4 separate regions of the Homo sapiens genome follow, and all the other regions are reported to be linked to region 1. Evidence: microRNA targets listed by miRTarBase, many of them from high-throughput screens and not tested one by one. Region 1 holds a microRNA gene; each other region holds the end of a gene's coding sequence.
What was found. Region 1 holds the annotated microRNA hsa-miR-4776-3p (CUUGCCAUCCUGGUCCACUGCAU, at 4,493-4,515, shown strand). A microRNA usually pairs through its seed, bases 2 to 8, with sites in the 3' UTR of a target mRNA and lowers its output. Matches are read on the target gene's strand: a 7mer-m8 pairs with bases 2 to 8, a 7mer-A1 pairs with bases 2 to 7 and ends in A, and an 8mer does both.

Region 2: the mRNA of SALL1 is a reported target of hsa-miR-4776-3p. Seed matches in the 3' UTR shown: 7mer-m8 at 1,325-1,331.
Region 3: miRTarBase lists CLMN as a target of hsa-miR-4776-3p. Seed matches in the 3' UTR shown: 7mer-A1 at 2,095-2,101.
Region 4: miRTarBase lists MOB3B as a target of hsa-miR-4776-3p. Seed matches in the 3' UTR shown: 7mer-A1 at 3,973-3,979 and 7mer-A1 at 1,520-1,526.

Annotation. Positions count from the first base shown.
Region 1 is chr2:212,921,818-212,928,979 of GRCh38, forward strand. MIR4776-1 (microRNA 4776-1) reads left to right here and starts at 4,440; the gene lies at 4,440-4,519. It overlaps MIR4776-2 (microRNA 4776-2), which reads right to left and starts at 4,519; the gene lies at 4,440-4,519. RefSeq lists an enhancer at 6,951-7,162.
Region 2 is chr16:51,130,980-51,138,141 of GRCh38, reverse strand. It overlaps SALL1 (spalt like transcription factor 1), which reads left to right. Exons shown (of 3, transcript NM_002968.3): 3 at 590-2,160. The coding sequence ends at 1,030. LOC105371253 reads left to right here and starts at 2,251. Exons shown (of 2, transcript XM_017023963.3): 1 at 2,251-2,966; 2 at 3,337-4,394. The coding sequence starts at 2,921. The coding sequence ends at 3,941.
Region 3 is chr14:95,185,798-95,192,797 of GRCh38, forward strand. CLMN (calmin) reads right to left here. Exons shown (of 13, transcript NM_024734.4): 13 at 1-5,935. The coding sequence ends at 5,767. Among named protein-coding and RNA genes, the nearest start is that of DICER1-AS1, 32 kb to the left of the region's middle.
Region 4 is chr9:27,324,437-27,331,598 of GRCh38, forward strand. It overlaps MOB3B (MOB kinase activator 3B), which reads right to left. Exons shown (of 4, transcript NM_024761.5): 4 at 773-6,180. The coding sequence ends at 6,151. Among named protein-coding and RNA genes, the nearest start is that of EQTN, 31 kb to the left of the region's middle.

The sequences.
Region 1 (7,162 bases):
AATTAAACATGTGTACTGTATTTATGGTATGGTTATAACCACATAAATATATGTATACATATTAATACACATGATGAATAGTAGAGAGAAACAGGAAGATTTGAATTAGTCATTTCTAGGTTTTTTTATTACATCATATTTTTATATACAGTCAAATGTGCTGTAATGCCCACACATTAATGACATAATTTTAAAAAATTAATGAGGATGAAATATGCCTATAACCCTCTCAGGAAATCTACATTTCACTATGTCTTCAGGATTCACTTCCTTTACAAAGTCTTCCCAGATAAGACACTCATCCAATGAGAAAGGTCTTTCTTTACCTTCCATGAAGTCTTTGTCATTTACACAGTCTGAGGTCTGTTTCCTGTATTGCTTTACTCTTGTCTTGGGGTTTTCTTTGTTTGTTTGTTTCCTAATTTCCCAATTATATTTCTTGTTTTCTAAAGTTAGAAGCTTGCTTTTCAAAGATTCCATGGCTTCTAGGATGGCACTGGACCCATAGATGACTCTTCCAAAATATTATTGATTTAATGAATATTGCATAAGAAGATGCATTCTAGAACAAATTAGCAAGTAAGAATGCAGGTCTGTCATTTACTGGGATGTAGGCAATCAGTTCCTGACTTTGTAGGCCATTACGAGGTTTAGAACTCAACTATGTTCTTTTAACCCGTATAATAAATGACAAATTTTAAATTAGGAAAGCAAAGTGAATTTTTCTTTTGAAAAAAAAAAAAACAAAAACAAAATTACCTTCCTTTGGAAATCATTATGAAAAGTTGTGTCTGTAAAGTATGTTACCTTTAAAGACAAAGAAAAAATACAACCAAATAATATGTTACTAGATCATCAATGGGTTTTTACCTGTTCACTAAGTAAATTTTAAAAGAATGAATGAATAACTTTGAATGATTCACAGCAAATTTCTTGCTCAATATTATGAAAATATTTTGTTTAAAAATGCAGTTGATAAGAATGTATTTCTTTTGAGAAACTCCAATGTATTAAAAACATGAAGTTAAGATAGAACTTTCAGTACCTTTAGAGATTGCGATATTAAGATTTTGTGCTTCATCAAATGCTGTGAATCATCAATGTCGTTTGCTGATTGGTATTTCTGGCTCACAATTCCTCTGGTTCACAGCAATTGCTCTTGAAAAAATAAGAAGTCTTTTAATTTTAGATAACACCAAAAAGAGAAGGTTTCAGTTTTAAGAAGTCCCATTGGGATGATAGAAAGCATTGTATGGAGAACTGAAAATGGTCAACCCCTTGAAAATGATCAGTATTCTGTGGTTTTGGACCTTAGTTGAAAATGACATAATCATATTTTCCTGGTCTTATAATGCTCCCTTACCTGAGCAAACTTGCAAGGATAGGAGAGGAAGTCAATGCCCCCACTTTGACCCTTATTCAAACCTCAAGGTTTCAGGAATTCCCAAAGATTTAGAGTAGAAGTACACTGTGCCCTGCACACAGTAGGTACTTCAACGTTTATGTCACACTTTAATCATCAAGCACAATCACAGGACTCCAACTAATGCTTCCCTCAGTGCAGCCCAAGGCACATTCAGCAATCTCACTCAGAACAACCAGGAGAGATACTTAACACAATGTATGCCCTTAGGAAAAAAAAGTAGAATAGCATTATCAAAGGCTCTGATTTCTAGATACAGGTGTGCTCTGACTTTTTCATGCTTTCCTTTTTCTCTCTGAAATATGGGAATAATACCCCCTGTCACTGAGCCACTGGAATGTTGAGGAGACAATGAGTTAGCATTGGAAAACAATTCAGGGTGAAAGGTGCGGATGTGAGCTCAAGGTATTTGTTAATGTTATTACTCAATCCATTCTGGCCCAGTGTGGAAACAAAAGCAACTTTTATTACAAATAACACAACATTGTTAAAATAACCTTAGGAAAGAGAGAATAAATGAATCTACCAAGATAAATAGATAGCAGCTGGGTTATTGAGACCTCATGTTGAGGTTACAGGCTTTTAACACTAAATGCAATGTTCTTTTAATTTTCAAGTAAGAATCATTTGGTGAAAAAAGTAGGTAACCTATTAGTGCCTGTCTATAAAAGAGTGAGGACTTAGATTTCTAAATGCATACTAACAAGTATATTTATAAAGACAGATTTTATTACCTGATTGTATAAAGCAGAAGTCTCCTTTAACAGATTAAAAGAAGAGGTGGGTGGAATATGCTAACAAACAAAGGTCCATGTGTGAATCGGGGGATATTCAGGACTTAACTAGACTTCAGCAGACTCATTTAGGATCTTAAACACTGTCCCAAGTCCAAAATTCACATTTAAGCTGAGAGCAGCTAGGACTTTACTATCTATCTATGGTTTAAGTTGTCTTCCACTCGGCTTGTAAAGCCTAGAGTGTCACTGTTTCTGCCCACAGATAGCTGTCAATCTTGGCCCATAAGGAGATGGAACCATAGGAAATGTTTCATCTCCACTCCCAGCACTTCTTTCCATATAAAAAGATTTCCACTAGCACAGCAGTCCTGACATCTCTGTTCTCAGGAGAAGAGGGAATCATTTAATGTTATTGAGTCCCTTTACCTCCTCATTCTCTTGAGAGCTATGTGCATAGAGAAAGCATACTTTCTGCTCTGCTATTTCAGACCCTACATTTTAGAGTACATTGTCTAATGTTGGAAATAAGGTAGGTAAGTCTCTCTAAATCTGAGATTCAGTGATAGTAAGGCGATCCTCCAAAATCAACTTTAACAATGATAAAATTGATAATTTCCTCTCTATCTATCTTACTCTGTTTTTCAATGACTCAGACTCAGCTGGAGAAGAGAGATGTTCCCTCTCTTGAGCTCACTAAAGACATTCAACAACATGTAATACAATGGGTGGGACATTTGTCTTTTCCAGGCCAAGGAAAAGGAAAACAAACTTAGGTCCCCAAAGACTTAGGATAAAATATCACAGATATAAACTTAGCAAAGTTGAACTCAGCTGTTAGAAAATGGAATTGGATTAGTTTCCTGTGGCTGCTATAACAAATCACCACAAACTCAATGGCTTAAAACCACATAAACTTATCCTCTCACAGTTCTAGGGGACAAAACTCCAAAATCAGTTTCACTAGGCCTACATCCAGGAGTTAGCCAGGCCATGCTCCCTCTGGGAACTCTAAGAGAGAATCTGGCCTTTCCTCTTCCTGCTCATGGGACTGCCAGCACTTCTTGGCTTGTGGCTGCATCACTCCCATCTGCCTCCCTGATCACATTGCCTTCTCCTCGTTGTCAGCTCTCCCTCTGCCTCTCTCTCATAAGGATATACGTGACTGCATCTAGGGCCCATTCTAATAAGCTGTGATAACCTCTTCATCACAATATCCTTAACTTAATCATACCTATAAAGACCTTAAATTTTTAATGTTTTAATTGTTTTTAATTTAAAAATGTCTTTTCTTAGGTTCCTACAGACAGAAACCTTTTTTCTGTATCAGGTAGTATTTACAGATTCTAAGGATTAGGACCTGACGTCCTCGGGGGACTATTTTTCCACATGAGTTCAATAGTCTTGAATAAATATCATTTATATCTCTTTTCTTCTTTTCTCTATGTTCTGAAATTTTACAATTTAAGATGCAAAAATATGTGGTCTAATATCATAGTTTTAGAGAATTAAGAAGGTAAATTCATCCTAGAGTTTGGATCAAACAAATAATATTTAGAAGGAATATATCATAAGGTGATAACTTTGTATGTCGGTATATATGTAAGTGTGGGTGTGTGTAAATCATTAAATTTCCATATATATACCATATAATTTTCTACCTGAAATGTTGTGAGTTAAATCAAAAAATGTAAATTATTCCTACATATCATTAATATTATAAATTCAGGACCATAGTTATTTATATATTTATTTTTAAAATTCTGGTTGAAGCATTTGGTGAAACAGTTCCAGAATTGAGTTTTTTATTCTTTCTATATGTGGAGCATATGGTAAAATTATTCCTATTTCTAATATGAGTTTGGTATTTTATTGTTAAACTCTAGAAAACAACCACCTTTTAGCCAAGAACCTTTGCCCTCTAAGACACACTCAATTGTATTTTACTTTTGCTACCAACATTTAGGGGTTAGTTTACTTTGTGTTATCATATTCCACCAATATTCAAAAGATTTATCACTTGGCAAGAGTTACTGATGACACTCCATGAGTAGGAAACCTCAAATCTTGGTGAAGGGCAGGCACTGAGCTTCTGCTAAGCACTCTCACTAGCTAAGAAACTTGTGCTACATACTACATGTGCCCTGTTTCAGTTAGGACAGGCTATGATATCGTAACAAATAGACCGCCAAATTCAGCTTCTCATGTTTGAGGGAAAAACACATCTATCTCTCTTTTGGACAACAGTCCAGGATGAGGGTTCCAGGTCAGTGGGAGCTCGGCTATATGCAGTGGACCAGGATGGCAAGGGCTCTCCTGAAAGGACAGTAGAGCCCTTGCCATCCTGGTCCACTGCATATAGTCTGCTCCATCTCAGGAAGCCAGAAGGTAGAAGGGGATGCAAAAACACAGCAGTGCAAGAGCTCTAGTATGTGGCCACACAGAATTGCAATGGAGACTGGGAAGTATAGTCTAGCTGTGTGCTCAGGAAGAAGAGGAGAAGGGATTTTGGTAAACAGCTGGCAGTCTTTGCTGCATGCATTATTTCTGCCTCAGCAAAATAAAAGTTGACTATGTAAAACAGAGGTCATGTGTGTAGAGGTCATTGTGTATACCCTTGGGATATACACAAGCATTCAAACCAATGAATAGTGAGAATTTATTCTACCCAAGCAACTATTTATGCCGAATATTCAGAAGGGGAGGGGAGCAGGAAAGAAATGGTTTATTTTCTTTAAATTATTGAAAATATTAGCTTATATCAATTTTCTCAAGTGATGAAAATGCAGGGGTTAAGCCTTTATTTTTTTTTTAAAGTAAATATTAGTATTATGTAGTATATGTTAAGAAGGTTTTTTTCTCTTCATTTCTTAATCTATTGAGGGAAGGACTAGGCAAATGAAGTTAGGCTTCTTTTCTCAGGGGGCCTAACTGTTGGCCCAGGCTGGGTTCCAAGAACTAATACAAGGAATGGTAACTGGTGGGGTTGTCTTTTTGCTGAATGAAGAGAAGAAAAGAAGAATTCCAAGTCTGTTTCCCAGGCACAGGAAGGACCAGGAAGCAAGGAAACTTCCAATTTTCAAGTCCACTGAGCAGAATACAAGAACAGGGTCCAAAACAAAGAGTTCTCCGTTGAGAACCGGCAAGATGGAGCAAGCAAGTCCTGCAGGCAGGCTGGGCCTGGAGAGGCGCCAAGAGGCCACAGCACTCTTGGGAGGAGGTTTTTCTGGACTCTTGAGGAGCTGAGACTTTTATATTCCAACCCTGCCTTTAATTTGAGGTTTGCCTCCTCCCTCCATTTGCAGAAGAGTAATCCGAAGCTAAATCATTCATAACATGAGAATGCTGATCTGTGTCCAGCCCTTGTGAAGGGAAAAGAAAACAAAACTTCACAAACATAATTAGTAGAACTACCTATAAAACCTAATGTTAAAAGAGAAATTAGCTTTCATGGAGAGAAAGTGTGATGGCATGACACAGAAATTAAGTGCACTGAATTTAGATTTGAAAAGAGTTTGATTCAATTCATGTCCCTGCTTCCCAGTAGTCCGTGACCTTGGGCAAGTGACCTATACTCTCTAAATCTTAGTTTCCTTATCTGTAAGATGGGAGATGAAAATAATACCTAATTCATATTTTTTAAGAACTTAATGAAAGAATGTTCAAATGTATCTAATAAGGTATAGGAACTCAACACATGCCAGTTAAACAAATTTCTAATAATTGACTTTCTTATTTCTTCCTTTCTGGGTAAAACAACTGTCCTTTGTATACTTTCATTTTTTGGAGACAGAGTCTCACTCTGTCTTTTTTTGGAGACAGAGACTCACTCTGTCATCCAGGCTGAAGTGCAGTGGTACGATCTCGGCTCACTACAACCTCTGCCTCCCAGTTTAAACAATTCTCCTGCCTCAGCCTCTCGAGTAGCTGGACTAGGACTACAGGCGGGAGCCATCATGCCTGGCTGGTTTTTTTTGTATCTAAGTAGAAATGGGGTTTCACCATGCTGCCCAGGCTGGTCTTGAACTCCTGAGCTCAGGCAATCCACCTGCTTCAGCCTCTCAAAGTGCTAGGATTACAGGCGTGAGCCACTGCACCCGGCCTGCCCCTTGTATACATAAAAAACAATCAATCAAATCTTCCTCCATGACCCCTTAAGCACTATTGAGTAAAGGTGGGATCTTAAGTTGTGACAACTGATATATGTAAAATGTCAATTTAAGAACATCTCCTTTCAGACATGAGTATTTCCCTGCAAACTTAGGTTTATGTCTAAGATCTTAAGGAAATAAATACTATAAAAAGACATAGTTCAAATAATGTATTAATAGAAAAAAGGTCCATAGGAATATCTCAGTGTTTTCTTTTATATGAGATGTATCATATGCTAAGAATATACAATTCTCTAGAATTTATTATTTTTCAAAGTATTCTTTGAGAGGCCATCTCTCCTGTTATTACTTTGTCCAGGTAAGTGGGAATTTCATTCGTGAGGACTCCAAGTCCTATCTATGGAGTCCATTATCACTGGGCATGCCAGTACATCTTCTGGCAAACTGTGACAACAGTCTTCATTGGCAACCGAGAGAACAAAAGAGGATTTTTCTAAAGGTGATGAGGCAGAAAAGGGAAGCAGATGGCCCTGAGGAACACGGAGAAATGTCAAGGGAATTGGCCTCTCTTCTTGGCACTTTGAGGCCTGGCCATGAGGGGTATGTGCCTGTTCATTCCCTCACGAAAAGCGGAGAAGGAAGGATCTAGCCGATTGCACACTAAAGATAACTTGGAAAAGGAACTTGACAGTCCTAGGGAAGAGGAGTTGCAACATAAACTGGAAAGCAGATGAAATCCACTGGTGTGATGAAATTAAAGAGACTTCCCAAATATGCTGGGAAAATCAGTGGAATTTTCAAACCATTGCAAAGTTGTTTCATAAGAATTAGATTAACTAATATTAACTTGTTTCTGGTATGTGTCCAGTACTATGCTAAGTTTGACATGCTTT
Region 2 (7,162 bases), not on the chromosome of region 1:
ATGCTTAAGTTCTAGAGCAACAGTTGAGTGCTCTTAGTGTGTACATTTTTCTGTTGACAGAGTATTTCTCTGGAGATTGCTCCCAGTAATGTGAGATGAATAATTACTTTCTGGCTTTTCTCTCCATACGCAGGCCCTCCAATGGGCAATCAGGGAGGGATACCTTCTCCCCATCTGAAAAGGACATTTATAGGGTAAAGGGTGTCAGATACAATACTTACCATTGCAATGAGAGTGGACCTAACAATTCTAACCCTGAAAGGAGCTATCCGCCACTGCCTGGCTTGCTTGAGGCCATTATAAGCTAAATATGGTTAATAAAAAAAGAGTAAGTAAGGCATCCTTGCCTTGGAAGAGGGGAGACAGCCCAGGGCTGCAGAGAGTGAACACGTTATTACTAGACAGGAGGAATGGATGGTTCCTGTTGCCTTCACTGTCTGTCACATGATGAGAATAGACATTTAGGCCACTTGCTTTGTGGACATTTGGGATATGAGTTGAGACAGATTCAGCTATTAAGCTTCTCTCCCCCTCCTCTTTTTTTTCTCTCTCTCTCTCTGTCTCTCTGCCTGCCCTCCCCATATCTCAGGTACACATGGGCACTCACATGTGGAATAGCACCCCTGCACGACGGGGTCGGCGGCTCTCTGTGGATGGCCCCATGACATTTCTAGGAGGCAATCCCGTCAAGTTCCCAGAAATGTTCCAGAAGGATTTGGCGGCAAGATCAGGAAGTGGGGATCCTTCCAGCTTCTGGAATCAGTATGCAGCAGCGCTCTCCAACGGGCTGGCGATGAAGGCCAACGAGATCTCCGTCATTCAGAACGGTGGCATCCCTCCAATTCCTGGAAGCCTCGGCAGTGGGAACAGCTCACCTGTTAGTGGGCTGACGGGAAACCTGGAGAGGCTCCAGAACTCAGAGCCCAATGCTCCCCTGGCCGGCCTGGAGAAAATGGCAAGCAGTGAGAACGGAACCAACTTCCGCTTCACCCGCTTCGTGGAGGACAGCAAGGAGATCGTCACGAGTTAAAGCAGCTCGGGCTGGAGACATAGCATTCATTCCTGTTCAGAATGCGACCTATGGTGGCCTCCTACTCCTTGCCCCCCACCCCGCCCCGCCCCTTCCTTCTGTTCCCCAGATCTATGAACTACAACATTATGAAGACATTCTTTTGTACCTTGTTCAACTTTAGAGTTCTAAGAAAGCTTATTTATTAGCGATATAACCTTGCTTTGCAAACAGAATGCAAGCGTTAACTTTGGTCTTCTGTATTTTGGACTAAATACTAATTGACTAGAGTGCTGTAAACTTGCTGTAACATTTATGGCAATTGCAAGTTGCCCTGCTAGGCAGTTGTAATCTGGCATTAACTTATTTTCTATATCCAGTTTAATATGAATCTGGTGTTGATGCAATGCCTCAGTGATGCATTAGATCTCTAATAAAGTCTGTATATACATGTACACTTTGATCCTGCTGGAAAATTTTATCAGCAAACACATTGTCTAATCTTTCAAAACAGATTTAAGGAAAGGACTGAAAGTACAGACTGAACAGTGTGGTTCTTTGAAAGGTTTGGTTTTTTAATTTTTATTCTAAAATTCAACCTTTTTTTTTGTCGATTTAACCATTTCCATTTTGAACTGCTATTTGTATTGTGCTTTTTACTTGAGTCGTCTTCAATGTTAATAAGTTTCTGTACAGTAATAAGCACGCAGAATTCTTTAGAGAAAAAGAAAACAAGCGTTGTTTTGGTAGTTGAAACTGAGACGTAACATTTTGCCTTGTAGGTATATTCACGATAGAAAATGTGTGCTGGAATTTCACAATGCTGCTAAGTATAGCATCTTGAACAACCTTCAGTGGAGAAAATGTAGATGCTCTTGTATATACAATAAGAAATATCACTTTCATTCAAATGTACATATGTTCCTTACAAGAGCAAATGCTTCTTCTTGATCAAGAGAGCAGGTATAGTGTTTGTTTATTTTGTCTTAGGTATGGAAGAAAAAAATTGGACTGTTACATGCACTTTCTTGGAAAGTTGAAAGGAAAGGGGGGGTCCAATTTCTTTAACATTTAATACTTACTAACAACAGAGATACTGTAATTTTACTCAAGTAATCAAATACATTTTTTTTGCAACAGATAAAACAAAATACTGTGTCTGTGTTTTTAGAGTGCATTTCCATTTAGCCAGGCCCCAAATGCGTTTTAACATTTCCCCAGGCAGCAGTCAATTGTGTATGTGAGTGTGTATCCCTCTTTAAATGAGGAATTGTAAAAGGCATAACAAACGGCTTTGCATGGGCCTGCGTTTTCTTTTATTTTGAAATTTGGAGGCCCTAGATATTTTCCCAGTATCTATGATTTATTTAGGAATGGATTTTATAGACTCCACTCGCTACCCACCCCACCCCCAAGAAAAGCAAAACAACGAAATGACATAAAAAGATGTTGTTGGAGGTTTTAACCCAACAGGTAAGTTTCTTTTAAGCAAGATATTTATGCCGATTTAGATTTCACTTTTACTATTCTGGTTTTATTTCACTTAATGCAGTCACGTTTTTTCAGGCAGCTGAGAGCCACATTGCTGGGGAGTTCCTGATGCTGCGGGGTTATATAATCTGACTTAAACTGGGCCTCAACCCAGAGAGGTCAACATGTTCTTTATTTAATTGGTCTTTTAGGCATTTAAACGCACATGCATATTTGAAAGAAAAAGTCTATTAGAAAGGTTATGTAGAGTCAGCTTGAATATTTCATCAAGCAAATTCAAATGGATTCTTCCCCTCTCCCTGTTGTTCTGGGGCGGAGGGGGGAACAGGCTTTCTTCCTCCTGAGCACTGTTTTGAGGTGAGCAAACGGACTGAAGGGAAGCTGTGTCCAGAGGGGTCGCCGATTTTTTTTTTTTTTTTAATGTTTCAGGGAGCTGGTGAACCGCGCATCCGGCGGTTGTGCCCAGGTAAGGTAGAAAGCGTCGGGCCGCTTCCTGCAGAAGTTTCCACCAGGGCGCGGGCCACTCGGGTCCGCACTCCCCCGACCCTGTCGTTAGACTCTGTGCCGAGGGGGCGCCCTCAACCCCTGCTCGGCCTCCGGGTCCGGGTCCGGGTCCGGGTCCGGCGTTCCAGAAGGTGGGCGCTGACCTGGGCCGGGAGAGTTCAGGGGAGGGGGTGGGAGCCCCCAAAGCCAGAGAGGGCGGCGGGGGGGGCAGGGGAGAGGGTTGCGCGACGTCGTGATTGATGCTGAGAATCACCCCGAAGGCTTGGCACCCGAACATTTAGAGGGACAGATTTCTCGCTCTCCTCTCTCCTGTCCCGTCCCCTCCGCTCCAGGAGTGACATTTTTTCCCCAAGAGTGGGGACACGGATTGAAGGCCGGAGTTCCAGCCAGAACTCTGGTTCTGCGCGGGCCAGATGGAGCTGTTTCCGTTGCACAGACGACGTCCACAACTTCCCATCGCTGGGCGTGGCGAGGAGGGGCTGCCCCGGGCTGCGCGCCCTTTACGCCCAGGGACAGGGCCTGGGGACATCTGAGGGAAGTGATCCGGGGGGCTGCCGCCCACCGAGAGGGGCAGGCTTCGACAGCGCCACCCTGCCGCACATGCCCGGCGCCTCGCCGGCCCTCTCCAAAGGTGTCCAGGGGCTGCGCCGCGACACTTTCCACCGAGCGTCTGCCAGCAGCTGGACCCCGCTCTCCAATGGCCGCCGCCGCCAAGTCCCCGGGGCTCCCGCACTCCGGGCCGGGCGCGAAGGTCACCGCCCTGCACCACCTTGGGCTGCGCGTCCATTTCCAAGAGGCAGGCAGTGGGGAGAGGGGAGCGGGGGCGCTGTGTTCCCTTTCCCTCTCATCACTAACCTCCCACCTTCCAGCGGTTTCTGAAAGTGAGTTAAGGGGAGCAAAAGTCACTTCTCTTTCCGGAGCCATCAGAAGAGTTTAGGAAAAGGTCAGAGGGTCTCTCTGTCTCTCCGTCTCTTTCTCTCCAACCCCCTCCTCTCTCTCTCTCTCTCTCTTTTTCTCTCTCTGTGTCTCCTTTTGTCCCTGCCTATCCATTTATTGATTGACTATCTTTCTAATCTATTGATTATTACCTGCCCATTCATTCCCCTTTCCATCCATTTCCAAAATAAGAAATCGCCCTCTGCCCTGCTTCTCCTCCCAGTGTGAAAAATACACTCAGCCTTTGGGCTCGGCCCGCAGAACAGAACTGGATTTACATTTACAAAGCAACAGGGTTGAGGTGAAGGCAGCTGACGGGCGCGCACCCCCTCCTCACCTACTCCCCGACCCTTGCCCCGCTACGCCTCACTAGAGGTGCCTCGTGGTGGTATTGAAATCACCGAGAACCGAATTCACTGAATTAAGGAAGGATTGTTGCTGCAACTAAGTTCACAGAATTGTTTAGCTAAAAATATTCACTTTGGTGACAGTTTCCCCAGCTTTTTTTTTTAAAAAGGGGGGAATTGTAAAAATACAGAACAGCCCAGAGAAGAATTTAAGAAACGCTTTGTGTCTATCACTCAAAATTTACAAACGTTAGGAATTTGTAGTTTATTCGAGGTTTTTTGTTGTTTTTGTTCCCCCCACCCCTCCCCAGGAACTGCGTTTCCTGTTCTTCCTCTCTGCCTGGGTAGCTGTCATTCTCTCATTCTCTCTATCTTTCCTTCCTTATATTCCGTCGTGCTTTTTCTTTCTTCCTTCTCCCGTCATCTCCACTACCCTCCCTTTTCCACCCACCCCCCCGCCACGGGCTTCCTTCTTCCTGGAAAATATACTTGGAAGAGCAGTTTGGTGATTGACAGGGACCTGGGGAGGGGAAAAAAAGAGAGAGAGAACCAATGACAAACCCAAGCTGCTCGAGATGACCCCTCCCTCCCTCCCTCCCCCCCCACCCCCACCCCCGGTCTGGGTTGGGGAAGGGTGGGTAGCGTAAGGGAGGGGTCCTGCAGATCAGCTGGAGATACCTGAAGCTGGCTTTGCGCTTTGAGTTTTTACATCCCAATCTTCACAGGCCAGGTCTATTCAAATGGCTTTTTAGGGAGTGGAGGGAGGGCATTTTTTTTTTTTAATTACAAGAAAAAAATGTCTTCAAACAGAAAATTCTTAATGATTTGCAGTTGACATAAATTTCTAGCAGTAGATTATTTGCTTATTGTTTTTGGCATGTCGTGAATGTCAAGAATGAGAGAGCAAAAAAAAAAAAAAAAGCTCCTACTCTGTTAAAACTTAGCAGTCCTGTTAGAAAAATAAAGCAATGGATTATTTGCTAGGAGTTACACACTCCATCCCAAATGAAACAAATGTCAGAGTGGGTAACAAAGTGGAAAAAAGTATAAAGTGAATTTCAAAGGGCTCCACAGTAAAGCGCAATCTGAGATTCACAGAAAAGTAGAGACGGATAAGACAGGAATTAGGTCATCTCGTCCAGACCCCAGGAAATATGTCTAGATCAAAGCCTGCTCTGTTAGAATAAACAAAACAGGACCCATTGGGCCCTACCAATATTTTCATCTCAGTGCTAAGAGCTGCTAATCTAACCAGCTCTATTTGATGAAAGGGAGTAAAAATTACAACTGTAAAAATGACGACGTAATAAATGTCCTCTCAACTCTTAGAGGAAGATAAAGATTTAGATTTGAGCTAAAAAGTAACAAGATCCAGGCCCAGATCAACACAAACTTCCTGGAATTTTAGCACTAAGTAAATTATCTAATCCTAGCCATTGTTCCCTCCCTGCTGCCACCCCTCACCCCCACCCATCCCGTGTACCCCATGCAATTGAGTATGCCAGATGATTTACATTAAAAATTTGTTAAATTTTAACTGCAGTCTGAGGACATTGCAGGGGGCCTTTGGGGTTCCCTTCTTTTGCATTCCTTAAAGACCCACCGGTTTTCTGTCCCCCACCAACCCCAATGTGGCCTGCCCCCCTGGCAGTTGTTGGGGTAGCAGGCTGGACTTCTTTGTGTGGATGCTTTGTTTAAGCCCAGTCTTAAAGTTTGGGCTCTTTTTCCACCGTGAAGGGCAGATGGACAGAGGCCTGGCACGTGTGTCCCATCAGCCTGGCTTGGGGTCCACACAGTTCGGCAGCTCATTGATATTTTCGCAGCTAAGCTGAAGTACTGTGTAAGTACTGGGTAAGACTTTCACCGCCGACTTGATGGCCTTCAACCAATGACCAGGGAACATTCGATAGATAGAAACATCTACAAAAAAGGACAGGAAATCCCAGAGAAGGAAAATTGGACCAGGCTAAATCCCGGGTTGTAGTTCCTTACTGAGCCTGGCTTCCTCTTAACTGTTTAAACATAGGACTTGGCTCCTCTCATGTTTCTGTGTCCATCTGAGCTCAAGTTGAACAAAGACTCATCGGCCGCATGTCAACCTGGCTCCAGTGCTTTCTGAAGCTAGGGACGATGACAACGGGGGTGGCAAGTGTGACTGGCCTTTCCGAACGCCACCAGGAACAGACTGTTTTCTGTGTGTGGCCCCTGGCTGCTCACCTCGCCAAGGGCAATTCCAGGATCAGATTTTTACTTACATTCTGCGGAGGGCTTTGAAGACAAGTGAAACTGCATTGGAGGCCACACACAAGTCGATCCTTCCTTATAAGACCCAGAGTGGGACCTAGTCCAGCTGCACCAGGCATAGCTGAATCCTGACACAGTGCAGTCTGTTAGGTCATGGATGCCTGGAGACCAGGAGGTCACATCATCTTCTCATCCCAACTACATTCAGGATGAGGTCCTGGAAGTCACCTGGAAACAAGGGTAAACATGTAAACATGGTAGACCCCACTCCTGAGATTAGGGCCAGACAAAACATAACTATACTAATCAGCCTGCAGACCTGCTTCTGTATTCAGAATTTGGAATTCTCCATGTCTCATCTTGCTTGTCATCGTAACAATCCACTTAACAGATGACAAAACTAAGGCCCTGAGAGCAGAGAAGGAACATTTGGACACCAGGAGACCTGGAGCTATCACTAGCCTGAATGCCAACTTTGGGCATTTGGCAATCATTGCCTGATCAATGGTACCATTCCCCAAACTGTACCATGAGAGGTTAGACTTCCATCAATAGGCTCCAGTAGCTTCCTTCAAACTCTTGCCATGTTTATAACTACATTAGTGGAATCCCATCTTTACTTTTACTTATT
Region 3 (7,000 bases), not on the chromosome of region 1:
CTCCAGAGGCTTCTGAAGTCCTTCTGGAGAGTTAAGAAAATCGGAGCTCATGTGAAAGCATTCTTGTCATACAACTGCCTTCCAATGGCATGACCACGGAAGGAGAACAGCTCCTCACCAAAGCAGCCATGATGGATTCTGACATTTTCGTAAGACACATCTGTACTTGCTAATTCTGACTTTTGTTGGAGAGATGAGCTCCATGGTGTTCTGAGTCCCTAGCGATGGTGGGTAGGGAGGTTAGCTTCAGCAGCTGAGGCTGTGGTTTTGTAGTAAACTTAACTGGGAATGAAGATGGCTATCTGGAGGTCATCAACTAGCAGGGCGACTAGTCGTTTCCTCTTTCTAATCTTCAGTTTTTCATCTCTTAAATGAGGCACTGAACGCTTACATAATTCCTGAGGTTTTCGAACAGTCTGTGACTTACAGAGATCAACAACACAGGCTGCCCCCAGTGCCTCTGCCTTCCCTCTGTTCCATCCTGATAAAGAGCAGGCATGCACTGCATGGGAAGAGGGTGGGGGGAACTATGCTGAACCTCAGAAATGGAGACGCCCATGTTCTGGGTGGCTGCCCGAGGGGCAGCAAGAGTGTCCTGCTTCTGAGCCTTGGTGGGAGAACATCTCCCCACAAAGGTCAGGTCTGACCAGGAAGCCCCGACCACCTGATCATCAACTATGGCAAGATACAAACTTCGACGAGGCAATGTTGGCCACGTTCAACAGAGAATCCGCGCTGTTTGTTTGCTGGCAAACACCTGTGTGGACTACTTGTTTCTTTATTTTTGAGACAGCGTCTCGCTCTGTCACTCAGGTGGAGTAAAATAGCAGGATCATAGCTCACAGTAACCTCAAAGTCATGGGCTCAAACAATTCTCCTGCCTCATCCTCCTGAGTAGCTGGGACTATAAGTGTATGCCACCACTAATTTAAATTTAACTTTTTGTAGAGATGGAGTCTTGCTATGTTGTGCAGGCTGGTCTTGAATTCCTGGCCTCAAGCGATCCTCCTGCCTTGGCCTCCCAAAGGGCTGGGATTATAGGTGTGAGCCACTACTGTGCCTAGCCAGTTTTCTGTTTCTTAAGTGAAGCAAGGGTGGTAAAGAAAACCTAGAACCCAGACCACCACATAGACTATATCTTTGGGGAGGCAGGAGATCTAAGATCATTTACTGACAATAGGCAGCAAAACCAGGGGGAAGGAAGGAAGGTAATAACTAATCATGGCATTCAAGCAGAGCTTAGCCATGCTATGTATCCCTCTCCTGCACTTGGCACAGCATTACACAAAATCACTTAGCAGACCACAGCTCAACAGGATGGATGTTGCTGCAGTCCCAGCTGGACTCAGGGCACGTTCACAAACCAGTCAGAGCAGCAAGCCCCCTAAGCAACCTGTGAGATAACTCAAATGGGGTTTATGGATCAAGATGGTATACTGAACACATGAGCCTGTTTCTTCCCTCATGAAACCCCATGAAAATAGGAGCAGAGGAATGAAAGTTATATTAATACAACCATGAACACAGAATACAGAAGAGAACAGTAAGCAAGAGCTAGCAACCTATTTATGCAGGAATGGAACTGATGGAAAAGTGAGCAGGGAGGGGGATCCTAAAACCACATGCCTGCAGAGGGGAGGCCACAGAGTGGTCAGCAGAGATGCCCTGTGGCCTCCAGGAGAGGCTTGGGGATTGGAATAGGAGGGATGGGGTGAGACATGGGGCTGAAGACCAGGGCATTTATTGGCTCTGAGGTCCCCTGTCCTTCCCATGCAGCCAGATGACCACTGTGCTCCTACTCCATGGAGAAATCAGAGCAGCTCCAACTCAGGGACACCAGGCACAGCAAAGGTTGAAGCAACTTAATGAAAGTCTAAATACTCACGGGTGATGAGGCTGCCTGCTCAGCGGTCAGGACTCGGGCACACTGAGTATAGACCAGGGTCTCTGGATATGGTCCTACAGTTGTGCATTGCACAGAGGCACTTGGCTAAAGAGGGCAATTAGGAGTTAAAATCTAGCCTTTTCATTGTTCCTCGAGCATTGTCCAAGCTCAGAGCTGGGTATGTCTGGAGGAAGGGGCAAAAGGTGTCCTTTGCCAGTCAAGCCAAGTGCTCATGGGGACTTCTGCCCAGATGGGACACCATTTTTGAAACCACATGAGTACTCAGCATAGGCTAAAAGCCCTGTGTATGCCCGTTTCCCAGGAAGGAGAGTAGTGGGAATATCTCTCAAGAAACAGAATGAGCCCCAGAGAAAACACGTGCAAATACTGACAGGCAGTGTTCTCCAATGATGAGTCCAGGTGCCCACCTGGTGACCCTAGTGGAAAAGCTCACCAGTTGGCACACACAACTTCCAATCAGCTTTTGGATGCCTCACTCTTAAAACATGAACAGATCCATAGGATCACCATATATTTGAGAAAAATTCACAACGTGAAAGATAGAGACTGAGACCACCAAAATAAAGAGAACTCAGAGAAAATGAGGGCAACACAGGGAGCAGAAAAGACTTCCCCTCAGACCACAATCATTAACGTCCACAGAGAGACAAAATCTGCATCCACGCATCAAGAGCAGGACACTGTAAAACAAAGACAGGATAATAACCAAAGGTTTTATTAACTTGGAAAATAAAAATTCAATAAAACATTCAGATTGGGAAGATAAAAATGAATAATTCTTCCTGAAAGCAGATCAGAAACATAGACGAAAAATAGAAAAGATAAAAAATATTAGAGCATCAGCCTGGGTGTAGGGGAGGGTCCAACATTGAAATAATAGGTGGTCCAGAAAGAAAGAATGTAAATAATCACAAGAAAATTTAAGAAATTTCCCATGAAGGCCCAGCACAAGGTTTAACACCCGGGATACAACACCATCATGACAGTTCAGAACACCAAGAATAAAGAGATCTTAAATGTTTCCAGGAAGGGTGGATAAAAAAACCTAAGTCACATATAAAGGTACGGGAATCAGAATGGCATCAGAAATCTCAACCAGCACGCTTGGGAGGGGCTAGGGGAGGGTATTATTTTCCACCTGTCATTCTATGCTCAGCCACATTTCTGTTAAGGGCAGAATACAGACATCTTAAGTCATGCAAAAATCTCAAAATATTTACAACCATATTTACTTCCCATGTTCTCTTCCTCAGGAAGTTATTAAAGAATGTGCCACACCAAAAAAAAAAAAAAAGTAAAGAGAGAGAATAGCAAATTAATGGGGACATTTGGAGGAGAAAGGACATGTAACCATAACACACTGCTGGGCTTGGGAGTCAACAATCCTTAAGTGCTCCAGGTAATGTCAACACCTAATAGAAATGTACTAAATGATGTGATCTAGCTATACTGGAAAACCAAAGCACGGTATGGTAAGAGTGAAATCCTCCTCTACTGTGACAGCAAGCCAGTAGATGTTTCTAAATTAAAAAATAAAGTGTAAGCACGTTATGTAGAAATGCAAACATAAGAGAGTTGAAAGTGGTTACTTCTAAGCAGCGAGACTTAGGGGACTGCTAGTTCTTGTTAAAAGCCTTATTGTATTTCTTTTAATTTAAAAAAAATTTACAAGCAATGGGGTGGTTTGTCCTGCAGACTTCCACATCCATTTTCTATATCCAGCTTCTTCCATAGAAGCCTATACTCAAATGAGATTTTTTTTTCCTTTGCAAAATATCAGTTGACTGCCAACCTGAACCAAATGACTTTCAGGCATCTTGCCAGTAGATGTTTTAAACAATATTACAAGTTGTAATAGGTGAGAGAAGTATCTTGCAGAGGTTTTTCTGAACAAGGTCTAGACCCATAAAATGAAATGATTCACATTTGGGTTGGCTCTTCCCAGGCTCTTCGAGCATCTAATTTAGGCAAGGACTGCATGGTGCCCAGAGTTATAAACTATCACATAATCTTTATTATCTGTACCTTTGAGCTTTCATTGATGCCAGGGAGCTCATTAATTAGCTCATTTTCCATGGGGCTCTTGGCCTTCCAGATGGAATCACTCCAAGCTCCCAGCAGCTTTCTGGTTGGAAGGCTGAAATTCTTTCAGGAGGGGAGACAGACTATAATCAGACTGGTTTAGAGGCCAGATTTTGGCTGTCATCGACTCAGATGTGCTATGTAAATTCTTCTGGCCATGCTGGAATTCTGTAAACTTGAAACCCACTGCTTGAAATGAGCAAGTCCTTGGCTAGCAAAGAAAGAAACGTGATTCCTGGAGTAAGAGCGACGCTGGTATGTCAAATGACAAGCTGTTGCAGCTGTCAAGGGTATTTCAGAAGGAATTGGGGATGAGCTTGAAGGTGAGTAAGAATTCCTCATGGGAAAAATACAAGAACAAAACAAATGTCGATAGTTGGTCTAAACTTTTTGGTTTTGCTTGAATGTGGACATTTTAATCTAGTCATTTTATCTTTTTCTCAGGACATTGGTGTGCCCAGTGGAAGTTTCCTACAAGGGGTGACAGCTCTGGACAGGGCATCAGGTGCCTGTGTGCTCACTGCAAGTCTGCCCCTGGTCGGCTATATGATCTTGGTCAAGCTGCTCTGTCTCTCTGGGTCCAGCTAGACAAGATGCTCACTGAGTCCCCTCCTGACTCATTTGTGATTTTATAAGGGTTGCCTGGTACATGCTTTCTGAAGGGGAGAGCAAGGGGAGGAGGAACCAATGCAGAGACTCACCACGGACCTGAGTCTTGGCAGGGAGGAGAGAGCAGAGGGAGCCTGGGGCTGAGGAAGACTGGGGGCAGGGGTGCTAGAGATGCCTCTCTTCTTTCACAAACCTCCTGTGCTGGCCTGCTCCCGGAGTGCTGTCCAGAAAGCCTCTTCAAGAAACCCATTACAAGTGACCACAAAGAATGCCCGTTCCAAGACATGCATTCTGAGGGAGGTGTGCACCAAAGCTTTAGTGGGCAGGAAGCTACCCCACCACCCAGCTCCAGCACTGCTGGGAGCTGATTCCAGCCCAGCCACTCCTCATGGCTTTTATATGGCCCTGCTGGGCCCTGGCGATCTGGTTTGAAAATCATGGTTCTATCTCAATCCAATCAATGGAAAACTGAATTTCAAGTGTTATCTCCCCTCAAACAAAAAACAAAACAAAAAAACAACAAAAAAAACAGGGTGAAAAAGAGCACACAGTGGCTCTCAACACAGCTTTCACCTTCCTCCCTGGATTCTGCCATTCCTGGATGTGCTTACACAGAGCTGGCTGCTCGGATTTCCCCTAGTGAATGCAACCAGTTACCGGACTGCGACAGGTGCATGGACCCCAGCACCTTCTCTCAAACACCCACGCTTGGAGGAAAACGTGGCAGCTCTCTCCCCAGCTGGGGCTTGGCCTGGGGTGCCCACCCTCTTTCTCATTAAGCAGCCCTTCATCTGAGAGGTAAGAAACTCAAGTTCATCCAGCGTGTGAACCTGCAATGTGGGGTGTGCTAAGATCCAGGCGGGCTAATGATCACTAACAATGCTCCCTATCCAACCCAGCAAGGCACACAAGGACAAAACCCCACCTACGGATCCAGCTGCATGCCTGAGTTTTGAGTACACAGCCAAAGAAAAAAGCATGCTCAGGTTGTCCAGAAAAAAAAGGAAACCTGAAAAAAAAAAAAAAACCACAATAGCGAGAAAGGGGGTCTAAGTTTCCTCGGAGGTCCTCAACTGTCTGTAGAAGTGCCCCACCCAGAACCCAAAATAAAATGAAGTAACCCCGCCCCTGGTCAGGGTCCTGTCTTTTTTATTATCCAGACACACGTATCAGAGCCTGCTAACATCCAGTTGTGGGAAGAGCAGCAAGCAGTACACCAGGAGCCACAGGAAGAGAATAAAATACATCATATCCGGCTGCTGGACAAGCTGTGTCAGGGAGTCACTCTGCGGGCTGTGGCTCCCCAGTGACATGGCTTCTCCTGAGCTGTTGGCCTTCCTACAGAAGAAACACAGAGGAAACGCAGTTACCAAGCAGGTTCCCAGGAAAGTGGACCCCACCCAGTGCTACCCGTCTCTCCCCGGCCCCCACTCCCCGCCTGAAGACCCGAAGGCTCCCCAGCACCATGTCCAGGTAGGCCCCACACTGTGTGTACTGGCCCAAGGCAGTGCGTCGGGCCATCCAGGCAGCCCCTCGAGCTTTTGCACGTACTCCGTTCATCTCCATAACATCAGGTGAGAGGAGGTGGCAGCCCCATTCTGCAGATGGACACACTGAGGCTTTCGGGGTGGAGTGACTTGCCCAAGGCCATGCAATTAACTTGGCGACAGAGAGGGCGCCTAGGCCAGGTCTCCTGGGACACCTTTCTTGATGCCACAGTGCTCTCAGAGAGTGACACGGAGTTAGATACTGATCGCTTGCTGCTGTTTGTTAGTAACGCAGGGGACCCCATAGGTCATCTAAGGGATGAAGTGTCCCTAATAGCAGATCATTTTAAATCATCTATCAGAAAGAAACAAAGACCTCTCCCATTCCCCACAGTTTTGTTTTGGCTTTGGAATATTACCTTTAAAATAATTACTAGATTTGATTTCAGTCAGATTTACCTTCCTGCTTTTATTTTATAGGTGGTAGTGTTAAAATGTCATTTCAGTTTTGCCTGGCGGATCATAGGGAAGCCCAGAAGGTTTTGCCTGGGGCTGGGGCCTCTGCTTGGAGCTGCATGTAGAGAAGCCTGCAGTGTAAGCCTCTTAGGGTGGTTTCGTGCGGTGTAATGGAGATTACGAGAGGCTAAAACCACTTGTCCCAGAACTATCTCCTGATAGCAGGAGCGAGGGGCAGGGTGGGATTAAACATCTGCCACAGTCTACATACTGAATGATAAATACCCACATGATGGTCTTCTTTAAAAAGCTGTCCACAGAAACAAGTTAAACTATATACTTTTTATAGAGACACGGTCTCTCTGTGTTGCCCAGGCTAGTCTCAAACTCCTGGCCTCAAGCAGTCCTCCCTCCTTGGCCTCCCAAAGTGCTGGGATTACAGGCGTGAGCCACCATGCGC
Region 4 (7,162 bases), not on the chromosome of region 1:
CTCAGTAATGGCGGACAACCCTCCCCCCACCAAGCTCCAGTGCCCCAGGTCAACCTCAGACTGCTGTGCTGGCAGTGAGAATTTCAAGCCAGGGGATCTTAGCTTGCTGGACTCCATGGGGGTGGGATCCACTGAGCTAGACCACTTGGCTCCCTGGCTTCAGCCCCCTTTCCAGGGGAGTGAATGGTTTGGTCTCACTGGTATTCCAGGTGCCACTGGGGTATGAAAAAAAACTACTGGAGCTAGCTCGGTGTCTGCCCAAACGGCTGCCCAGTTTTGTGCTTGAAACCCAGGGCCCTCATGGTGAAGGCACCCAAGGGAATCTCCTGGTCTGCCAGTTGTGAAGGCCATGGGAAAAGCGTAGTATCTGGGCTGGAGTGCACCATTCTTCACGACACAGTCCTTCATGGCTTCCCTTGGCTAGGGGAGTTCCCTGACCCCTTGCACTTCCTAGGTGAGACGACACCCCACCCTGCTTTGGCTTGCCCTCCATGTGCTGCACCCACTGTCTAACCAGTCCCAGTGAAATGAGCTGGGGACCTCAGTTGGAAATGCAGAAATAACTCGCCTTCTGCATTGATCTCGCTGGGAGTTGCAGACCGGAGCTGTTCCTATTTGGCCATCTTGCCAGCCACCCATGTGTTTTCAAATGAACTTTGAATTGGTTTTTGTAGAATTAACAGCTTTCCTTTTATTTACCTGTTCTAGGACCATTGCAAGACAACCTATTTATTAAAGAAATGAACCAAGCATTAAAAAAAGACAGACTAGATAATGGTTATATGCTTTTTATTTGTGACATTTGAATACCCAAGCTCACATATAACTGATTTCCTAAATATCATTTAATTTTATGTTGCTTTTCTAATTGATTTAATTGTTAGTTTTCCTTATAGTCAAATGCTTAATACAATCATAAATGGAACCAAAAATATAGTAAACATTTCTTTTTCTGATGTATGTAAAAAAGATACAGGAAAATTCTGAAATCAGATCACTATAAGCTAGTAAAACAGGCGAATTATTTGATTAGAAATGGACTCTTCCTTCATAAGTTACACAAATCCTTATGTAGTCACTGAAAATTCTTACTCAGAATTAATACCTGTCCAGAGGGAAACAGCCTGTTATAAAAGCTTTCTGTTAATATATTTTTTAAGGCAGGAAAACAATCATTATTTCCAAACACACTTTGTTTGTCTAATTCTAGGAGAGAATCACCAATTTCTTCAAGGTCCAAAATGATCAGAACAAGAATGACAACAGTGTCAACCAAATGATGCCTCCAACTCCTTTTAATGATTGTGCCTTGGTACACATTTCCTCAAAGATAATGGCTATACTTTTCCCACAATCTTTTTGCTTTTGTTTTCTCCCAGTGTGGTACTCATGGAGTATGGAAGGGACATAAGGTTTAGAGAACATAGGAAGCAATTTGCTTCCATCAATAACCAGAATGATGGATTGACATAAATCAGCACAAAAAGATAAGTGTAATTCTATTCAAGTCCCTTAATGTTTTGCCAATTAAGGTTTTTTTTTTTTTTTTTTTGAAACAACAACAGTGTAATCTTTAACAGGGATGTTAAAGGTAAGAAGTCAGGAAGATAAACCAAAATGATTGAGTATGATAAAGAATTTTGCATGGCGATTAAAATAGAAAACCTATAAATGTAGAAAAAGCAGGTCTGGACTTAGCAAAGAAACAATATAGTTTGGAGAAGGCATGAAATAAGTTCTTTTCATGTTCACTGCTGGTCACAGCCATAACAGAGAGTGATGTGGAGAGCTTTGGGAAGGTTTCACGTTGAGTTACATCAGTGGTCAACAATGGAGCAACAAGACTCCGTAGAGGATGCCACCCTGGGAGAATTGCAAGGGAAAGGAGGCTGAAGCACAACTGGTAATAGCCTTCAGATATTTAATGGATATGCAAATAAAGCTCTGATTAATTGTATTTTCACTTATTATATATCATCTTTGGACCTTTCTAAAAGTGGGACACTAGAAAAGATATACTGAAACTCAAAAAGAATACTTCAGCTCGAGTTGAATGGAATTCAAGATGTTGTGGAGGGTTCAGTGGGTTGGTTATACCAAAGAATGCTATAGAATTTCCATGCCCGAAGAACTGTGAGAGGAGTATAGATTTTTTCACCAAGGAAGTTACTGGCATGGTTTGAGAGATAGAAGGAATTGATTAAGAAACCTCTCAAAGTTTCTTCCACTTAACCTGGCTCTGAGACTCTGGGTCTTTGGAAATGAGAAAATACCCAGGGAAGAGAAAACGAACAATTTAAGAAGCAGGAAATGACTCTAGATCAGTATTTCTCAATTACAGCCGTGTAAGACATTTTCTTCCTAATCATCTCTCCCTTGCACCATCACCATGAAATTTTAATACCACATAAATACTTTGTATCTGTTTATGTACTTGTGATCCTTTGGAGGGTCACAACTCACTGTACTATCTAAGAGTTTTCCCAAAAAAACCATCTGACAATTAGGGAGTGTGTGCTCTCTATAAATAAACTATGGGTCCAAATGGGAGGTCATTGAAGACGGGAGAAAAAATAAAAGCGTTGAATATTTCACCTCTGGCTACAGGGAGCATACAAATCCTCACTTGCCCATGCTCTCACGTATTGCCTGCACATGGAAACTTCCTTCTTCCCCTCCCTCCTGTTATATGGAAAGGGATGAATGCTTTGCTAGTGCTATATCATCTGACTGCAATGCTTATAATATTTTGGGGATCCTGGGCCTCCTTGAGAACATTAAGGGATGAATGTACGTATGCACAGCCTCACACTCTATAAATGTATGTGTCCTGAATTTCAGAGCTTAATAATGAATTATGGAACTTGATAATGATTGGATCAGGCAGACAACACCTGATCAGTCCTAATATCAGAAAAGAGACAAGTAGACATTATGTGCTTCCTGAGGTGAGGCAGTAGTAAGGAAACAACATCACACATGTAGCAGTCTTGGGAAAAAAAATGTAACCTGTATCTCGTAATGAGGAAACAATCAGTAAAAAAGTCTAGATTGTGGGACATTCCACAAACTTGCCTGAACTCTTTAATAATGTCAGTGTCATGAAAGACACACCACACACACACACACTGCACATCATACACAAACACCACCCCACCACCCACCACTCAGACACACACAAAAGGGCAACTCTAATCAATTAAAGGAAACAAAAGAGAATGACAACTACATATAACGTATAATTCTTGATTGGATCCTGGATTTAAAAATAAACAGCTATAAAGGATATTTTGGGGACAACTGGAGAATTTTGAATATGGATCATATATTAGATTTATGCAGTATCAGTGTTCAGTTTCATGGGCGTGAAAATATTGCAGATTTATAGGACAATGCTCTTATTAAAAGAAAGAATATGATGAAGTATTTTACATTTTCATGATGTCTGCAACTTATTTTCAGAAGGTTCAAGAATAAGAATGTGTATTTACAGTGAGAAAGAAAATGTGAGGCAGGTGCGGTGGTACATGCCATAGTCCTGGCTACTCAGGAGGCTAAGGTTGAAGCTCACTTGAGGCAAGGGGTTCAAGGCCAGCTTGGGTAAAATAGGGAGAGACCCCTTCTCTTAAAAAAAAAAAAGGAAGAAAAGAAAACAAGGCAAAACATTAACAACTGATGCACTAAAGGACATAAGGGTACTCACTATAATCTTTCAACTTTGAAACTTTTACTTTAAAATTTCCCAAAATTAAAATGAAAGCAGAAAAAGAAGGAGAGTAGGACAGGTTAGGAAGAAGAAGGAGGGTTGTCAGTCTCTGACCCAGAGGGCTGAAGCTCCATTTATAACAGAGATGAACAGTTAGATGCAGTCAAGCAGAGGAGATAAAAATTGACTGCAGAGATTTTCTTCAGAATGTGCCAAAGTTCTGTGGGAACAGGAATATTCTGTGATTAAAAAAAAAAAAAGGGTAGTTTGCCAGAATTTACCCTAGAAGAGTTCATTAGTGCAATTAACAATATAAGCAGGAGGAAATTCTTCCAAGAAGCTTAAAAAGATTTGGATTTTTAAATTGAGTGGAAATTTCATATGCACAGTTAATAAAAAATAACCTTAAAAAGAATGAATAACAAAGGTCTCCAGATTCCAGCCTCCTGCTCGATTATGCACTGCTGAAATGCAGGAACATATTCAACTTTTTAATGTAAAAATCCTGTGGCGTTCCATGATGCACAGCTACAGAGTTCCTCCAGGGCATGGGCTCCGTAGTTACCTCTCTGTGCCACTGTGCTGCATTCCCATCTGGTAACTGTGTATTGCAGAGGCTGGGACTTAGGGGCTCTTGTTTCTGTTCTCTGGATCTCTGTGATGGTCAGATATTCTTTTGGCCAAAAGAGATGTAGGGAAAAAACTTTGCCTATCTTGTCCTCTCAAAGTTACTTAGGAAGGGGGACAAAAGTATGTTTATTGTTGACCAGGGCACAGCAACATGGTGAGGTAGCAGCAATTGGATTCCGTGAGATGACCTTTACGAGACACAAAGCAAGGTTCAGGCTGCTTGGTTAGGTCAACAGAGAATGCCACTGTACCCACAGAGACAGCCCTTTCTTAGCTTGGACAAAGATTTCATGATTCTAGTCTTTTGTGGCAGCCACAGAGGGCTTTAACACATTATGATTGATAAAACAAAATCAGAGTCATTTAGTTATTCTTTAATCATTATTACTTTAAAATACACTAATACATTCTTATCTACTTCCCTCCACCGACAAATATTTTGCTAAATTAAAAGGATCACTGGAAGTATTATGACCCCCCTCGTCACAGGTGGTCAGAACCACCACAGTTTTGTGAATGAATCAGAGAAGGCAACATTTCATCAACGAAAACTCATTTAGGTTTCAAAAGGCAGGATGTAGTACAGAATGCATTATTCTGACTGTCTTCTGGAATAGAAAAATTGGAAAGGATGAAAGAAGGAAGTTAGCTCCAGCTCCACTGTTACCTTGGCAACCGTGGCCCAATCACAGGGGCAGAAATTAATTTTGTGCCGTAACATAACGTGGCAGAGGAGTGGGGAGCGTGGAGTGGGGAGAGAATGACGGCTGGGTTTAAATGCTCAGAAGGCTAGTGGGGAGGGTTACAAGTCAGCCGTCTGGGTGTTAAATCTACACGTACCAAATAACCAATTGTACTTTTTTCACTGAAATGTTAGTATTATGTAGAGACAGCCACGACTCCCTGTCTTTAATAAAGAACAAACACTGCAGTAATCATGCCCAACGCTCCCGCTGATCATTCTTAGTTATTTAGGACTTTTATTTCTCTCTTCTGGGAAACAGGAAAGAATATCTTCCACTGAAGAGACAAGGAATGATGGTGGTTATAAAAAATACATTCTGATCAGGTGAACTGGTAACTTGTCAGCTTTACGCTAGTAACCAGTCTCTTCCCTGCAGTTAGAACGTGAAGACCCTGTTTGGGGCAGAGACAAGCCACCCCATGGAGTGTCCCTGATAAAACTATTTATTAGGGAAATGCTATGGACGCCTCGGCAGGGAGAGTAGGGAGGTGCAGGGGATGGGTAGGGGTTCAGGTGTCTCAGAGCTCCACAGCCCTGCACAGTGTTAAACCACAGATCAGAGCAGGAGCTTTTAGAGACCTGAAAGGAAGGCTTATTGCATAAAAACTTGCTGCACATCCAGAGGTCCAAAATTCACCCGGCACTTAAAAAACCAATCACAGAGAAGTCGGCCAGCTGACAAGACAGATAAGTGGAAAAATACGAACACGCATCTCAGTCTCAAAACCTGAATTCCAGTAAAGCTTAGGCGGCAGGTCACAGGCAGAACTGTGCCATGTGTGGAAGTGCAGAGGCTTCCTCGTGGACAATTCCCCAGCCAGAACGGTCAAGGGGCTGGTCCTTCTTTCACGTTGTGGTCTGCCTCGTCCACAGGTCTGGGCTAGCAGCACTCAGAAGGTTAAGAGCACACAAAGTGAGTGGGGAATGTCTCTCAGGAGTCACTGCTTGCCTCCACCTCTGCTGTTCCTGGGAGTAGGTGTGTCATTTCAGCCAGGGTGGTCCACCTCCTGCCCGCTCAGGGCACCAGGAGGAAACAGCTTTCCTTTCTTCCAAAGGGTGAGGTGGAGCATTAGTGACACATCCTGCTCGTCATTTCTTTCTGGAAAGCAAGGGGAAAAGGATGGTTAGGAGAAACTATAAGCAGAGCAACGATTTGGTGAAGGATCCTGAAAATGCTCTTGGAATCTCGAGAGCCTGTAAATGAAAGCTTGCAAGCATGGTCCATGAATAAGGCTTAGCATGAGGGTATGTTCCATCTGTTTGTTCTGCAGAATTTTTTTTTTCCATTAAGGCACTGTTTAAAAATTTGACTCATGTATCAAAATTCAGGTTGCTTGCTTGCTTTTTCTGAGAAATTGCAAGATTTGGAGCTTCTGAACAACTGGAGTTGAAGAATGGCTGTCCTCTTCAGCAGAAGAATTTGCTCTCCAGTTTGCCCCAGTCCTTGCCACTCCCACCTGACTTCCCAGCAGGAGCCATGTAGCACTTATGAACTGATACAGTAATTGGATTTGGACTGCTAGTTTTCTTCGAGTAGGGAAAGATTTAAGTTTCAATCAAAGATGGAAAAATAAAGGATAAGTGGGTATAAGTCAAGAAAAGCAGGAAGGAGGACATTTTTAAAAATAGAAATGAATAATACACCAAAGTGTCTGACATGCGTCACCTGCCTGGCTCTTGTGGGTATTTATAGATCCCGAATAGCCATCCTTTCTCTACCCCTGGGGCTCCGCACAGGTTGAGTCCCATGCCTATGGTCCGCTGCTACCACATCCTGCGCCTGCCCCTCTTCATTTGTCAAATTGCCACTCATTTTTCCACCTCAGGTAAGGTGACTTTTACCTGCTGGGAGACCTTCCCGCACTCCTGCCCCACTCGCTGTGGAGGTAGCCACTCTCTCCTCCTGTGCACACATTGATTCTTACATGCAGTGTATGAATTTGTACATCTCTGTGTGTGTGTGTGTGTACTGGGGCTCTGGACATGTCTGTTGGCCCTGCTAGACTGGGCGCTACTAAGTGCCAGGAAAAAGAAGCACTCATTGAATCGCCCCATGTGCTTTCATCTTTGTAGCCCCTGCC